2 separate regions of the Homo sapiens genome follow, and region 1 is linked to region 2. Evidence: fine-mapped expression QTL. A gene starts in region 2. The other region holds a variant in brackets. All regions are shown on one strand. Distances are from middle to middle.

Evidence for each region. PIP is the estimated chance that this variant, and not a neighbour inherited with it, causes the effect.
Region 1: its variant is the best candidate, but not a certain one, in a credible set for the expression of BMAL1 in whole blood (INTERVAL, PIP 0.77).

Annotation. Positions count from the first base shown.
Region 1 is chr11:12,987,592-12,990,497 of GRCh38, reverse strand. It overlaps LINC00958 (long intergenic non-protein coding RNA 958), which reads left to right and starts at 950. Exons shown (of 2, transcript NR_038904.1): 1 at 950-1,042. The variant C/T (reference allele first, on the strand shown) is at 1,605.
Region 2 is chr11:13,276,371-13,279,196 of GRCh38, reverse strand. It overlaps BMAL1 (basic helix-loop-helix ARNT like 1), which reads right to left and starts at 1,407. Exons shown (of 20, transcript NM_001297719.2): 1 at 1,274-1,407. RefSeq lists silencers at 397-736, 1,017-1,086, 1,157-1,806.

The sequences.
Region 1 (2,906 bases), 290 kb after region 2:
TCATCATCATAATAATGATAATGGACATTTGTATAGCACTTGGCAGTTTACAAGTTACTTTCTTATAATAATAATTACCACTATATGGTACATTACAGTAACAAATACTTTTTAGGGCTTTACCCCGTTCCACTGTAAAAGTTGGTATTAGTGGAGGATGTAAATAGACTTATCTACATGATTAAGGAACTAGGAGGAGTGGAGGTTCAACACCAGCAGTTGGACAGCAAACATCTTAGAAGACCAGGCACATCTTCAGCCACACCCTTGGGTTCAACTTGGTGGTCTCCTGGTTGGGGTCAGGAGCAGAAGTGGGGCCATGGCCTCCACTTCCCTTCCTGGGCAATGTGCCTTTCTTTCATCACCATGGAGTCCTTGCCTTTGTTTTGTTTCTCCTTGTCATTTATTTCCATTAACATGCAGTGGTTTTTGTCCTTTCTCTTCCCGATTGTCACTTTCCTCACCTAGATAGAGAAGAACCAGCCCTCACCTAGCTCACTAGTCTGTATCAGGCTCAAATGAGGTGATGTATGTAAAAAGGTTTTGAGACGTTAAAAAGCACAGTCCAGAAATACCTGAAAGCATGTAAACTCTTACGATTTGGGGGCTTAGCAGGACCAGGAATTTGATCTCATTGCCTCCAGGTCATATCATGACCCTCTAGGATCCCTCCTCCCTGTCACACATCCCTCTATGGGCACATTGATTCCAGGATTTCCAGAGTACATCAGGGCTGAGCCGACCTCATGGCCCTCGTGGATTGTCTCTGATATGGTTTGGCTCTGCGTCCCTACCCAAATGTTATCTTGAATTATAATCCCCACATGTTAGGGAGGGACCTGGTGGGAGGTGACTCAATCGTGGTGCGGTTTGCCCCATGCTGTTCTCGTGATGATGAGTGAGTTCTCACGAGATCTGACGGCTTAAAAGTGTGGCACTTCCTACCTCACTCTCTCTCTCTCTCCTGCTGCATTGTGAAGAAACTGCTTGCTTCCCTCTCACCCTCTGCAGTTTCCTGAGGCCTCCCCAGCCATGCGGAACGGTGAGTTAATTAAACCTCCTTTCTTTATAAACTACTCCGTCTCGGGTAGTTCTTTTTTTTTTTTTTTTTTTTTGGAGACGGAGTCTCATCTGTTTCCCAGGCTGGAGTGCAATGGCGTGATCCCGGCTCAGTGCAACCGCCGCCTCCCGAGTTCAAGTGATTCTCCTGCCTCAGCCTCCCGAGTAGCTGGGATTACAGGCGCCCGACACTATGCCCAGCTAATTTTTGTATTTTTAGTAGAGATGGGATTTCACCAGGTTGGCCAGGCTCGTCTCCAACTCCTGATCTCAGCTGGTCCACCCGCCTCGGCCTCCCAAAGTACTGAGATTACAGGCGTGAGCCAACATGCCTGGCCCTCAGGTAGTCCTTTATAGCAGTGTGAAAACGGACTAATACAGTCTCCCTGGTTTCTCACAGTTTTCTTCCATTTCATTGCTCTGTCCTTGTCTCACCTGAGTTGGGTATTTCCTCAGAGAATATTAAATATTTTTGCTGTCAATCTAGAATTGTAATTAGATAAGTTGGCAGCCAAAAGAAAAGAAACTTCATGAATTATAAAGCC[C/T]GATATTAAATGAATTTTTTGAACATTTGGTAAAGTTTATACCTTGTCTGGCTTCTTTGTTCCTTTCTCAAAACAATGATTTTCTCTTTCAAATATCTTATTCTCCGTTAAATTTTCATTTACAACCAGAATGTGGCTTTTTTCCCTAGTCTGAGAGTCCTGACATCATCTTAACTAGGGAGTTTGTGGTTATTTGTAGCCAGGGACTAATGAGCAACAACAACAAAATGTCAGAAATACTTAGAGGATGAAACAGATTATTAAATTCTATTTTGTTACTAGCATGTCCATAAATTAATCTACCACCAATTTTAGCCATACATTGAAAGTCAGTAACCTTGTGAAATCCATGTAACTCAGTTTTCCAGAGAAAAAGATAATGTTTACTAAATCAATCACTGTTTGTTTGTTTGTTTGTTTATTTTAGGCCAGATGCAGTGCCTCATGCCTGTAATCCCAGCACTTTGGGAGGCTGAGGGAGGATTGCTTGAGGTAAGGAGTTCGAGACCAGCCTGGGCAATACAGTGAAACCTCATCTCTATAAAAACTTTTTTAAAATTAGCCAGGTGTGATGGTGCACACCTGTGGTCCCAGCTACATGGGAGGCTGAGCCAAGAGGATCTCTTGAGGCCAGGAGGTTGAGGCTGTAGTGAACTATGTTCATACCACTGCACTCTAGCCTGGGTAACAGAGTGACACCATCTCAAAAGAAAAATTTTGATGAGAATTATTGGAATAAATCTGTTAGTTATGATACATATGGAGAGAGAGGGGGAGAGAGATAATTGATTATTGGATTCTCTTTGTTTTAGAATTTTATTTATTTATTGACAGAGTCTCACTTTGTCACCCAGGCTGGAGTGCAGTAGTGCGATCTTGGCTCACTGCAACCTCCATCTCCTGGGTGCAAGCGATTCTCCTGCCTCAGCATCACAAGAGCTGAGATTACAGGCGCACACCACCACGCCCGGCTAATTTTTTGTATTTTTAGTAGAGACGGGGTTTCACTATGTTGGCCAGGCTGGTCTTGAACTCCTGATCTCTAGTGATCTACCCACCTCAGTCTCCCAAAGTGCTGGGATTACAAGTGTGAACCACTGTGCCCGACCAGTTTTAGAATTTTAAATGTAGTTATAAATAAAATGGGTTCTTGCCTAATTTTGATACCAAGTTAATTCCTTTTTAACAGAAATATTTTTTAATATAGTGTACTTGTACTTTCTAGCCTACAAACAAATTTTATTTGAAATTTTTAAAAAGCAATTTAATACTAATACTTATTGGGCACTTGTCAACCATTAA
Region 2 (2,826 bases):
TAATTCCTCGCTGAGGAGTAGCGGTGGAAGAAGGAAGAGACCGCAAGCGCCAAAGCGCCAAAACAACGCTAGGTGACCGGGAAGGGGCCGAGGCGGAGAGGGGAGAGGGGTCAGGAGGTGCGGGGTGCGCGGCGGCAGCGGGTCTCTCACCGGCCGGCGAGAACTTGACAGCAGGCGCCGGTGTCCAGCACTCCCCTTCCCTCCCCAGCTCCTGCCGGCGGGCACCTGAGCTCACCCCGCTGCCGGCTCTCGCGACCCCTCGGGGAGGCTAACATGCGCCCCACAAGGTCGACGTTCACCTCTACCTTCCTCGTCTTCTTCCAAGCAAACGGGAAGCTCTCTGGGATGTCAACGCCCGGCAATAGCCGAGCGGGAACCTTTTCTTCCCTGACATCTGTCAAACCCGGAGCTGGAGCCAGGCTCGCTGCGCCCTCCGCGGAGCTCTGGGACTCCAAGGCCGGCCCGCACCCGGGCTCCGGGCGACATCCCCAGGCCGACGCGCACCTGCCCGCAGACCCACGGGGCATCCTTGAGGGCCGCCCAGGACCTGGACGGCACAGGCCCCACGAAAGTTCGCAGGCTGGGGTCGGCCCCGTGCCGGCCGGGGATTCCCGGGTGCAGCGCCAGCCCTGGCTACAGGGCCGAAGGGGCGGGCGGACTTGGACTCCCCAAGCCCGACGGAGACGCCCTCCCCGCCCCCACCCAGCCTCGCGGGCTCCCGAAAGGGAAGTGAAGCGGGGAGGAAGGGCAGACGCGGCACCGTTCGCCCAACGCCCTTGAGGGGCAGCCACCAGGCATGGTCCCCTCGGGGATCCCCGAAGCTCCCGGGGACACATCTAGGAGTCCTCTTCGGCCGAGTCACTGCCCCCAAGGGCAGAGCTATCCCTTTAAGAGGCAGCTAGCTGCCCCCTCCCCCCGCCAGGTAGCGATGCCCGCGGAAGGGCGGTGGGTACTCCAGCGAACACTTTCCCGGCCCCTTTAAGGGCTCCTGCAGCACCTCTGCCTGCCCTAGCCCGCAGCGGCAGCCCCCGCGAGGAGGATGGGGGCGGACGGGCGCGGCGCCTTTAAGGGGCGCAGCCTCCCCACGGCCCGGGTGGGGGCAGGGAGCGGTCACGGGCCCTTTAAGGCCGGCAGCGGGCACGTCGGGCAGGGTTCTTCGGCGGCCGGGTTGCCCCCGGGGCGGCGGCAGGGGCGCAGCGCCCGCGAGGGTGCTAACGGCCCCCGACGGGGTGCGCGGGATCGCGTCGCTGGCCGCCGCCGGCCTGACACTCACCGTGGCTCGCCGGGAGCGCCCGCGCCCGCGCCCGCACTCGGATCCCGCGGCGGCGGCGGCGGTGAGTCCGGCGCGGGTAAACAGGCACCTCCGTCCCTGACCTACTTTCTGCCTTCCCTAAATGTCGCACCACTAACCTACTTTCCGACCAATCCGCTCCCCGCCGGCCCAGGCCCGGCCCCCCGCCCACCAATCGCTGTGCCCAACCCCCCTTCCCCGCCCACCAATGGAGGAGCCGCAGCGCCCGGATACCTGCCTCTTCCCGCCAGCCAATCCGAACGCCCGAAGGGAGCCGGTCCCGGCGGCCGCCCCCAGCCAATCCGCGCGCGGCTCGGCAGCCCGCTGGCCAGTTGTGTGGCGGCTAGAGAGGCCGCTGACCAATGGCGAGGCGGCGGGAGCCGGTTTACCTGCTACTTTCCTGCCACCAATCATTTGGCGCACAGGAGCGCACGCCCCGAGGAGAGGACCAATCCGCGCGCGCTCCCTGGGTTCCTCGCCCCTGCCCTCTCCCTTTCCCCTCAGGTCTCCCACTAGCCGCGGCCACTGCGGTGCCCAAGCCGCGCTCCTCGGGGTCGCCCGGGATGTCCCTCTTCTCTGGGTCCCCTGCCGGCTGGCGTTTGGCCGCCCGCCCTCACCCCTCCTCCTTCTTCTTCTCCCCTCCGGGCATTCCGACGAAAAGCAGCAGTTCCTGACTCCCTCTCTCCCTCCGGCTCCATCTAGGAAACCAATTTTAGGAACGTTGAGTGCCAGACCCTTCCTAAAATCCCTGGTTTGCCAAAGTCTCAACGAGAGAACGGATACTTAGTATTTCTAGAAGGCATTTCCACCCCGAGGACTGCAAGTGTTCTCACGTTCTTTGCGTTCATCATGACCTCCAAGTGTCCCACTGGAGCTGTCATTCCCGTAGTTCCAAAGAGAATACTCGAGCGCGGAGCGATTCCATTGCATTTCCTTCCAGTAGCCAGGTTTTGACCACTTACTGAAGAGTAGACACCAGCCCCGCGGCAGCGCTCTCTGCTGCAAAAAGCTGTCTACGGAGCAAGACGGAAGGAAACAGTTACAGAAAATAAAAATTTGATAACGACATGCGACTCGGTTGCTGAGAGGACAGAGAAAGTGACTTATTTTTGCATCTCAGGCACTTTGTAGAGGGCCTTTAGCACAAAGAACTCCCGGCTCTTCCAGATGTTAAACTCCCTGAATAGAAGGACAGCGTCTTCTTTTTCGTTATCCATCATGTCAGCTCTCCTTTAGCGCCTGCTGGGGTAGGGTGGAGTGGTGGGGGCGGGGCTGGCACCCAACAAGTGCACCATAAATATCTGTTGGCTGGATACATGAACAAATGGAATTAAATAAATTGGCCTAATTCTGTTACCCAGACTGGCCCCCGTGACTCTAGACTTCTAGCCTGGTAAGTTCCTTGAACACAGACACTGCGTTTTTTAATCTCTGTAACACCATTGCCCATCCCCAGCTCATTGACAGGCACGGAGTGCCCAATATGTGCTTGTGGTCTGAATGCTGACTGTTTTCGAGGTCAAGCAATTCCGTCG